4 separate regions of the Homo sapiens genome follow, and regions 2, 3 and 4 are each linked to region 1. The links come from fine-mapping of genetic effects on gene expression. A gene starts in region 1. Each other region holds a variant in brackets. All regions are shown on one strand. Distances are from middle to middle. Region 1 holds the start of EPS15 (epidermal growth factor receptor pathway substrate 15). Region 2 overlaps EPS15-AS1 (EPS15 antisense RNA 1). Region 3 overlaps EPS15 (epidermal growth factor receptor pathway substrate 15). Region 4 has its middle 16 kb from the start of TTC39A.

What was found. PIP is the estimated chance that this variant, and not a neighbour inherited with it, causes the effect.
Region 2: its variant is the best candidate, but not a certain one, in a credible set for the expression of EPS15 in whole blood (TOPMed, PIP 0.62).
Region 3: its variant is the best candidate, but not a certain one, in a credible set for the expression of EPS15 in whole blood (INTERVAL, PIP 0.59).
Region 4: its variant is the best candidate, but not a certain one, in a credible set for the expression of EPS15 in whole blood (INTERVAL, PIP 0.77).

The regions. Positions count from the first base shown.
Region 1 is chr1:51,517,775-51,520,382 of GRCh38, forward strand. EPS15 (epidermal growth factor receptor pathway substrate 15) reads right to left here and starts at 1,492. Exons shown (of 25, transcript NM_001981.3): 1 at 1,425-1,492. The coding sequence starts at 1,457. EPS15-AS1 (EPS15 antisense RNA 1) reads left to right here and starts at 498. Exons shown (of 5, transcript NR_183651.1): 1 at 498-672. It also overlaps a transcript of OSBPL9 not described here. RefSeq lists an enhancer at 747-1,675 and silencers at 906-1,375, 1,526-1,715.
Region 2 is chr1:51,559,676-51,562,283 of GRCh38, forward strand. EPS15-AS1 (EPS15 antisense RNA 1) reads left to right here. Exons shown (of 5, transcript NR_183651.1): 2 at 1,207-1,348. It also overlaps a transcript of OSBPL9 not described here and the pseudogene CALR4P. Among named protein-coding and RNA genes, the nearest start is that of EPS15, 42 kb to the left of the region's middle. The variant C/A (reference allele first, on the strand shown) is at 1,037.
Region 3 is chr1:51,450,862-51,453,469 of GRCh38, forward strand. All of the region lies in intron 8 of EPS15 (epidermal growth factor receptor pathway substrate 15), which reads right to left. Among named protein-coding and RNA genes, the nearest start is that of EPS15-AS1, 66 kb to the right of the region's middle. The variant G/T (reference allele first, on the strand shown) is at 1,238.
Region 4 is chr1:51,344,996-51,347,603 of GRCh38, forward strand. It overlaps a transcript of TTC39A not described here. Among named protein-coding and RNA genes, the nearest start is that of TTC39A, 16 kb to the left of the region's middle. RefSeq lists a silencer at 1-270. The variant G/A (reference allele first, on the strand shown) is at 1,263.

The DNA of each region.
Region 1 (2,608 bases):
AAAACTGGGAAATAGACTTTCCTTATGACACTTAGAATTCCTGCAAACACGGGTTAGTTATTTTACATGAAGCATGTACGTGACTCCTGGTTTCTGAGAAAACATTTTTTTCTCTCTATCCTACAGTGCTAGGCAAAGCACCCCAAAGCCTCTTGATTTTAAACACAGAAAACTCCACTGCCGAAATGTTTGCCCTATCCCAGCGCTAAAGCCTTAGAAGCACCGACGAATCTAGGCCAAGGAGTACAAGATGGCAGTGAGATACCACAATGCAGGCAAGGAAGACGGGATGGGCCCCAATCGGGAAGCACGCGCCACCAGCTCTGGAGAGAACCGTCTGAGGAGACGCGGGGGAGAGTTTGGGTCACAGGAGCAGGAAGGAACTGGCAGGTGTCTGTCACCTTATCATCCCGGACACCATGTTTACATTGTAATTGGCTTCTTTACAGAGAGGGAGGGACCAGGTTCCCAGTGTGAGTGATGTTTAGAGGTTTTCTGAGAAGCACAAGGACTGGACTTTGACAGGAAGCAACGAGGCAAGAGGGAAGCTCGAGAACAGGTTTTGCTGAGGATTCCCCCCAAGAAAAGTGCTCCCCGGGAGGCCGTTCCTGGCACCAAGACTGGCGGAGCCACCACACCCGTTAAAGGGATCCACCTGGACAGCGATCAGGCGTGAGCCCCCCGAGGGGAAGTTGAAGTGGAAGCAGACGTGGGTGGCAAAAGGCTGCATTGGGGGTCTGACCCAGAAGGAAACCTGATCAGGAGGGGGGAGAGGCTGAACGGAGGAAGGGGCCGGCAGAGTGGGTAGTTGAGTAGGATGAGACTTCTTTGGAGGCGAGGCTAACTACATTAAACTCTGGGAAGGGAGGGCTTCCGTCGGACCCTGGGAGAAAGGCAGGTCTGGAGAGGAAAGACTGGCTTGGGGGGCCTGCGCGTCCGGCTCTGGAAGGCAACTCCTACTGGGGGCGGCGCGCAGCCGGCCTGGCGGGCGAGCCTCGTGCGGCCCGGGGGTGCGGCCGGCCCGCGCGAGCTCAACAGGAGCTCACCTGGGATGCGTGCGGCCCTGTGGGAGGAAACTTCCTGGGTAGGTGAAAGCTGCCCCGCGGGAGCCGGCCCGGCACCGGCAGAGCGCGGCCGGGTCACAGTCCACTCGGCAGCGGCGCGGAGGGCGGCGAGGGCCGCGCGGGGCGGGGCAGGAGGCGCCCGACGACCCTGGGCGAGGTCGCGGCGGCCGCAGGGGGGCTCCGGCTCCGGAGGGCGCCCTCCCGCAGTCGCACCCGCTTTCCCTCACACACACCGGCCGCCCGGCCCACAAGCCAAGAAGCTGCCTGCTTGGCCCACAAGCCAAGAAGTCGGCGAAGCTGAGGGCGGTGGGGGAGGGGGCACCGGCCGGCCAAGCCCGGCGGACGGGCGTGTGGCGTTACCTGTGTCAGAGAGAGCTGGGCCGCCGCAGCCATGGTGTTTCCATCATGCAAGGGAGGGGAAGGAAGACGGGCTGACTGGGGCTCGGGGCGGGGAGGAGGCGGAGGGAGCGGCCGCAGGCGAGGCCGGGGCGGGCGGGCGGGCGTCTCCCCTAACTTCCACAACTTCCCTCCCCACGCCCGCCCCGCCCCGCCTGGCCCCGCCCGCCTGCCCGCCCGCCGGAGCCGGCCGCGGCGCCGCCCAAACCCTGGCGCCGGAGTCTCGGCCACCGGACCAGAGCCTGCCCCCGGGGCCGCCTTGGAAAACCCGGCGCGGACATAAAATTAAAGCGGACGGGCTGCGGAGGCGACTGCAGATTGACCTGTGAACTTCAGACAGGCCACCTACCTACGCTGAGCTCCTGCTTCTGAAAAATGGGGGAAATTGTAACTAGAGGCCCAGTTACTTACAAAGACTAAATGAGATAATGATAGAAAATAATAATGGCACTTTATATATGCCAGGCTCTGTACTAGACTCTTATTTTTTGAATTGTATGAATGAAGGAACTGAAACACAAATAAGTGTCTTACTAAGGTCATACAGCTAATTATATAGCTGAATTAGAATCCAAGTCTAACTGTAAATATTTAACCATCTGCTAGTATATTGGAAAAGAAGACATTAAGTCATTCCCTCCCACAGCCAAAATCCATTTGGAAAGGGGAAGCAAAAATGTATTTGCCTGGTGCCTGTCACATTTAGATTGTTTAACAAGGGAACGCTGGTGCCTGTAGCACTCCTAGCTTCTCCCATCATCCACTTAGCAAACTCCTCCTTCTTTCTCAGGACATAATTCAAGTTTCACCTCCTTTGCAAAGTATCTTTTTCTCTTCCTTATGTCAGAGTTACACACTCTCCTTTATAACCTTTCTTCTCTACCTTGTGAAGTCATCACCCTAATGACAGTTTACACCTATCTATCCCTCTAGATTAAGAGCTCCTCAATGGCAAGAACTGTTTTCAATATATTTCTATATCGTCAGACCCTAGCATTACAGTGCATGCTCAGTAAAGGCCTTCGTTCCTGCCTATATTAAACATAACACATCCTACACCTTCTGATGCTGCCAACCTTCAGTTGGAATACCCAGTTACTTGAAATTCATCTTCAAAGTCTCAGAGTATATACCACCTACTTCAAGAA
Region 2 (2,608 bases), 42 kb after region 1:
AGCAATTAGTGTCAAATACTTTTAATTTTGTATATGAACAAAGATACAGTTTAAAATGTGTACCTTAATGTTTTCAGTGGGGGGATAAGCATTTTAATGAAATAATCAGATTAGGCATATTAATATGGTCACATATGTTTACAAGATGTAGAAAGTTCTCCTTATGTATTAAAAAGAGACAACTGTAAAAAAAAAATAACAATGCAAAGTGTATCCACATTCTTCAAATTAGATAGGAAGAAAAGAAAAGAAAGATACAATGTGTCCCTTCCTCCCTTCCTTCCTTTTCTTCTGAACCCTTCCCCACTCCCCAACACATGCTCCTGGTTATTTACATACATGACCTCCTTGTACTCCTATGTTGGTCTTCTTAAGCCAGAGAAGCAAGAAAGTATAAATAAATAAAGTAGAAAATAAATAAACAAACTAAGAAAGCTTCAAATAGAGGGCGTCTGTCCCAGAAACCTTCGGTGGCTCTGAACTGTAGAAATCACTGATCAGAGACACTGAGACACGTGGCCATGGGACTTTGCAGGATATACCCAAGGACAGGTGGCTGTGGCTTCCAGAGGCTCTGTTGTACAGTGGGTGTAATCAATACAGCAAAGGCTTTAGAGGCTGACAGACCTATGTTTGAATCGTGTCTCTACCATGCGTTAGCTGTGTGCTCTTGGACATGTCGCTTGGTGTTTCTGAGTCTCAATTCTCTCAAACATAAAATGAGGAAATAATAAGGGATAATAGTACTTACCTTATAGAGTTGTGAGAATTTGGGGAGGTAATGTAGGTAAAGCACTCACCCCAGGCCAGTGTTTAACAAAAGTGAGTTCCCTTCCTCTCCAGGGGAATTCTTCATCCAGGACTTTGTAGATTATAGTTTCTAACAGACTCCTGGGAGGAATCATGGCCAAGGCCTTTACTCTGGGGCCTTGAGCCACTCTCTTTTCTCCTGATTTGGGGAGGAGTCCTCCCCATCTTTCTTAATAAGTCTCAGAGAAGAAAGAGATGGAGAGGACAACAACTTTTTAAAGGCTGG[C/A]GTATTGGTCCCCTCCTTTTTACCTTCCAATTAAAGGAAAGAAGACTGGCAGAGAGAGGGAAGCTGGGTCAGGACTTATCATCATGGCTGGGGCAATCACCCCTAACATCTGTCCGGGAATTTTAATGTTTCAGAGTTTTACCACATCTCTGATTTCCCTTTATCCCTAGAAGCACCTCCAAGGATCACGTAGGACCAGCAGAAGCAGCGTAAAGTATTGGAACTTTGAATCTGACATCAGAAAGACCTGCACTCAGCCGGGCACGGTGGCTCACGATTGTAATCCCAGGCCGAGGCGGTGGATCACTTGAGGTCAGGAGTTGGAGACCAGCCTAGCCAACATGGTGAAACCCTGTCTCTACTAAAAATAGAAAAATTAGGCAGGCGTAGTGGTGCATGCCTGTAGTCCCAGCTACTCAGGAGGCTGAGCCAGGAGAATCACTTGAACCCAGGAGGCAAAGGTTGCAGTGAGCTGAAATTGCATCACTGCACTCCAGCATGGGTGACAGAGTAAGTGAGACTCTGTCTCAAACAAACACAAAAAGAGCTGTACTTAAATTCTAGCTTTTCTACTTACCTTAACAGATGTATGTCTTCAGGCAAATTATTTAACTTTTCTGAGTCTCCTTTTCACATTTAGAAGTAGGAGACTTTCACAGTGTCATATTTTCACCCCCATCAATATTATTGATGCTTGCTCATTTTCTAATGTGGGACCTGAAATTTACCAGGTGCTTAAAGAATCTTTTTGTTTTTCAGATTCACTGATTCTAGGTAAATCAGAGGAACAAGCAACATGAACAGAAAAAATGTAGAAAATGCAATTATGCTGAAGTACAATTGTTGTTTCAGAAGTCCAGCATCTGGTGTACTTAACAATAGAGAATATATTAAATTTTTCCAAAATAAAAAAAACAAGTAGGAGACTCGCTAGTGAAAATTAAATGGCATATGCAAAGTCTTTAATACAGCATTTGGTACATGAGAGGGACTCAGTAAATTTTAGTAACTTATAATTATTAGGAAGACTATGACTGCCCCCATTTAAAAGATCAGCAGTCTGAGGCTTATAAAGACCAAGACTTATTCAAGTCTTGTGATTTCCAGCCTGAGGCTCTTTCTACTTTGTGAAAACTGAGAGACTGTGGCTCAGTGGCTCTGAGCTCAGAGGGCTTTACCTGCCAAAGGTCCAGGCTGAGAACACTAATGTTATAATAGTGACAAATGGTGGCGTCAGGCTTATATTTAGGGTTGTCTATTTTGGGATGAATCTACTCCCCCTGGTAATTGGGATTTTCAATGATCCAAGGTTTCCATTCTCCCTAAGCAAAGAACCAGTGAACAAGGCATTAGTATTTTGTCATTCTTCTGATCTCATGCAATCAGAAAGGCCAATTGATATGGTTTGGATCTGTGTCCCCACCCAAATCTCATGTCAAATTGTAATCCCCAGTGTTGGAGGTGAGGCCTGGTGGGAGGTGATTGGATCATGGGGGCAGAGTTCTCATAAATGGTTTAGCACGATCCCCCCTTGGTACTGCATAGTGAGTGAGTTATCATGATATCTGGTTA
Region 3 (2,608 bases), 67 kb before region 1:
TATTTTTAAAAATGGTATATCCATATAATGAAATACTATAAAGCATTAAAAAAATCACAAAGAACATTGTGTGTCTTAACTGTGGTGGTGCCTTCAGGCATATAATTGCCAAAACTCATCAAATTATATACTTAAATTGGATGCAGTTTGTTGTGGATAGCCTTGAATAATGCTAACCAGGAAAAAAAGAATCATGGAGCTCTCATAGTGAAAAGGTATCCAAGATAAACTGTTAACTATGAAAAAGTATAGTGTTGAACAGTGTGTTTAGTGGGTTATCTTTTGTGGTAAGGAGGAAATAATTAGTTATATTTGTTTATATTTGCATTAAGAAATTCTAAGATAGGCTGGGCGTGGTGGCTCACGCCTGTAATCCTAGCACTTTGGGAGGCTGAGGTGGGTGGATCACCTGAGGTCAGGAGTTCGAAACCAGCCTGGCCAACATGGTAAAACTCCATCTCTACTAAAAATACAAAAAAATTAGCCAGGCGTGGTGGCGCATGCCTGTAATCCCAGCTACTTGGGAGGCTGGGGCAGGAGAATTGATTGACCTTGGGAGGTGGAGACTGCAATGACCTGAGATTGTGCCACTGCACTCCAGCCTGGGAAACAGAGAGAGACTCCATCTCAAAAAAAAAAAAAAAAAAGAAAGAAAGAAAGAAAAGAAAAAAAAAGAAATTCTAAGATAAATAAGAAATTAAGAAAATTAGGCATAGAATAGGGATAAATGGAGCAATTGAGAGCAGGGGTGGAAATGAGATTTTTTTCACTGTATATCTTCTTATATTGATTCTTGAACCATGACAAGTATTTTTAATACATAAAGCACTTGCACAAAATGGGAAAAATTTGCATACAGACTGTCCCAGAATATATTCTCTTCATTTTAAAGCATTCAAGGTACCTTCAACACTTTCAGAGCATGAAAGTTTTCCATAACTATCTTTTAGCATATGAAATCACTCAAACTAACTTGGAACCTCTAGAAAGAGTCCAGCAACCACGAAAAGAAAGCTTGCATGTTTCTTAAATTTTTATTTCTTTTTTTTTGGTTGGTTTGTTTTTTGCCCAGCACAGTGACGCAATCTTGGCTCACTACAACCTCCGTCTCCTGGGCTCAAGCCTTCCTCCCACCTCAGTCTCCCAAGTAGCTGGGTCTACAGGTAAACGCCACCAAACCCAGCTAATTTTTTTTTTTTTAAAGAGATGAGGATTAGCCATGTTGCCCAGGCTGGTT[G/T]GTCTCCAACTTCTGAGCTCAAGCGATCCACCCACCCCAGCCTCCCAAAATGCTGGGATTACAGGTGTGAGCCACTGAGCCCAGTCTCTTGTTAAATTTTTTCTTCCAGAGAAAATTTGCATATAATCATATATTAAGTTTTGTGGGGCTTTCACATATATTTATATATTTATTTAATTTGTTTATTTTATTTAATAATTTATTGACAAAGGCTCACTCTGTTGCCCAGGCTGGAATGCAGTGGCGAGAACACAGCTTGCTGCAGCCTCAACCTCCCAGGCTCAAGTGAGTCTCTCACCTCAGCTTCCCAAGTAGCTGTGACTACATGCGTACGTCACCATGCCTGGCTAATTTTTTTATGTTTTGCAGAGATGGGGGTCTCACTACGTTGCTCAGGTTGGTATCAAACTTCTGGGATCAAGTAAGCCACCACACCCAACCCCTCAATTTATTTATTGAGCACTCAATGCAACAACATTCATCACTGATTTCCAGGATTACCAATCTCATTTTACAAATGAACACACTGAAGCTAAGATGCTAAGTAACTTGCCCAATATAATATTTTTAAGAAGTGATACAGTGGGGTTCAAACCAACATCTTCTGGCTACAAAGCTCTTGTTTTTTCCAAATTTGATCAGCTTTATTAGCAGCACATATGTAATCTTACAATACCACGCTGTCCTTTACAAGCGATAAAACTAAACCTTAACCCATTGGTACCCAAATTTTAGCAGGCATCAGAATTACCTGGACAGCATGATAAAGCACAGATTTCTGGCCCCTGCACTCAGAATTTTCTAACCAGCAAGGTTGGGCCTGAGAATTTGCATTTTTAACAAGTTCCCGAATGATGCTGATGCTGTTTGTCCAGGAACCACACTTAACCAAGAATTCTCCTCTCCTTTTTCACTAGCCAACCTAGAAGAATTCAATTTCAGTTTTAGAAACACACAAACTTTTTATTTCCAAAAGCCTGAAACTCCAGAAAGAAAACAATCTGACTAACATACACTTCCAACCAAATTCACAATATATGTACTGTGAAATTGTCAGAATGGCACTGAGCTAAGAGAAGTGCCTAGTGTACACATTAACAGTCAGCACTTCTCTTGCTGCAGATGGGAGTCATTTCCTGGAAAAGTGGACACTAGAAGCGAAAAAGCAACGTTAGCCATCTGCTGCCAATAGACAACACATTTTTATGAAAGTTAAAAATATATATTATTAATTTCATGTTGCCTTGAAAATAGTTTCCCTGGCAAAACTAAAGCCAAAAATTATACCTCCAAATAAAAGAGCAAAAGTGAACAGAATACTTTTAATACTGCTGGGTTGTGATTTTGTTTTCTTATTATATTGTACTTATT
Region 4 (2,608 bases), 170 kb before region 1:
GTCGCTTTTCCCGGAGGCCGCCTCCTTCCAGGTGGTCAGAAAGGCCATGGGCGCGGGCCGGGCTCGGACGGGGCCGCGGGCGGCCCCTCGCGGCGGCGGCGGCGGCCGTGGAGGCTACAGTGGCAGCACCTGGACGGGGCGGGCAGGGCGGGACCCGTGGCTCCTCCCCGCCCTGGACCTGCGCCTCCCTGCCCCAAAGTGGAAGGGCTTAAGTGTCCCTAGAGCGGGCCTGAGGTCCCTGGGCAAGCCCACTCCCACCCAGAACCAGAAAGGACCCCAAACACTCTGAAACCCCTCATTGGGCACCGGGAGAAACGGAGCTCCAGGCTTTGTCCAAGGTCACAAGGGGGCCAGCGGCCGGTCCCACTCGGTCCAGAGCCCAGCCTCCAAACTGACGGGCCACACGATGGCCTTACCAGGGTCCCTGCGGGACATAGCAGCACCACCAACCCTGTTCCCTCCTCCCTACATACAGAGCCAGCTTTGCTAGGGCCTCGCCGGAATGGGGTCAGAAGCTCGGGACCGAGTCAAATGCTGGGCACAGAGCACCAGCAGCAGGGGGCTGATGGGCAGGGAAGTGGAGAGCAGCTGTCTGGGCCTGAGGGTGGAGGCTGCAGGCCAGGCCAGGCCCTGGAGTGACCCACTTCACCGACTTATGAGTCCAGTACCCCGTGGCAGGTCGGGGGACAGAGGAGAATGAGCCACCGCCCCATCTCCAGTGTAAACTTTCTTTGAAGCCCCACATTTCATCTTAGGCTGCGTACATTTTTGGTTTTTATTTTAAATTACCACCACCAAGCAGAATCAGCTCTGGAGCAAGGGGATCCCCTGGCGTGCAGTCCAGGGGCTTTTATGGGAGGCCCAACTAAGGACAAGGAGCAGGGGAGCACCGTGAGGAGGCATTTGAGAAGGCCTGCTCCAGCTCCAGTGTGAAGAATGGATTCAGGGACCCCTGGAGATTTAGCTCATCAGAGAAGGTGGGGGTTGAACACAGGGCAGGGGCAGGGTGGCTAAGGCCCATTTTTGTTTCCTTTTGGGCTGGGTCTGTATCCTAGGTACTTGTGCAATACAAATTTCGTGTCCAATAAGTGGTGACTGGTTTTCACATGTCAGGTGTTCTCTCATGTGTCAAGCCCTGAGCCAGGCAGTTTACACCAATTCTTATTTATCTGCATCTTGTTACATACTCACTCATCCCCATTTTACAGTTGATGAAACAGGTTCAGAGGGGTGAACGACCTTTCCTGAAACCAAGTTGTGAA[G/A]TCAGGTCTTACACCCAGGCTTCTCTGCCCAATCTGGTGCTTTCCTCCCACCCTGCCTATGGACCATGGGTGGGCTGAGCACGGAGTGGGAGGCCCTGGGCAAAGCTGCCCAGAGGGCAGAGGCTCTAAGGACCATCTGGGCAATTTCTCTCACTCTTCCCTGGTAGGCAGCAGAGAACATATGACCTTTCACTCATATCATGGTCTTTGCAGATCAACAAGGGCCGGGGAATACTGCTTATCTGATCACAAAGCTAGAGCTTCTAAATCTGGAAAATCCAGTTACAGTATGCCCAGGGACCCAAACCCCTTAGTCCAGAGCCTTGTCCAGCTTGGCCAGCACTGAGCACTTAGCCAACTTTCTCCTGGGTTCGCAGGCAAGAAGAGCCACAGGACCTCAGAAGCCTGACCTTCTATGGGCCCAGAGCCCAGTTTACTAAGAGGATTAATCTCACCGAGCCTGTCAGCCCACAGCCAGCACCACTTCCTCCAGGAAGCCATCCAGGATCTCCCCATCAGAGCGGTCTCTCCGTTTTCAGAGGATACATTTTGTCTCTCTCACAGCATTTAGCATTACATATTTTAAAATCCTTGTATAAGTTATTTACAATGGTATTTCAGATTTCTCTCTGAAGGTACAGATAGTATCTCATGTGTCTTCTACAGAGCTCAGCACTATTGCTATACATAGTAGGTACTCAATGGTGAGTAAATAAAGAAGGAGCTAATACCTATCAAGCTTCTACCCAATGGCAGGCACTATGCAGAGAGCCTTTACGTATCTACCTCTAATCTAGACAACTGTTTTAAGAATATTTGGGTCAGAAGTTTAGAAATGTTCCTAAGATCAAATCAGGAGCTGGGATTCAATCCCGGGGTTCTTAAACTTCAAGGCTTGTTTCTTATTCTTCTTCCTCATCTGTTTAGAATTATGTTACTTGGGCACTATTTTAAACTCTTCACATGTGCCAACTCATTTAGTCCTCAAAATAATCCTAACATGTATGTTCTTTTACAATCCCAATTTTATAGTTGAAAAAGTGAGGCAGGTAGGAATTAATTTGCTCAAGATCACACAAACTAGTTAAGTGGCAGAGCTAGGACTCAACACACACAGCCCGACTTGAGAATGTATATCTTAACCCTAGCCCTAGTTTTCCTGCCACGCAAGCTATTAGATGCACAAAGCATTTACAAGCCACTTTTTCAAGCTTATTTTGAATCATGTAATAAACCCAAGGTAGAATCAGTTTTATTCTTCCCATCCTCCCTTCCACTGGAGCCACACTGCTTAGGTTAAAATCTTGGCCCCACCACTAGGTATCTGCACAACCAGGCAAGTTACT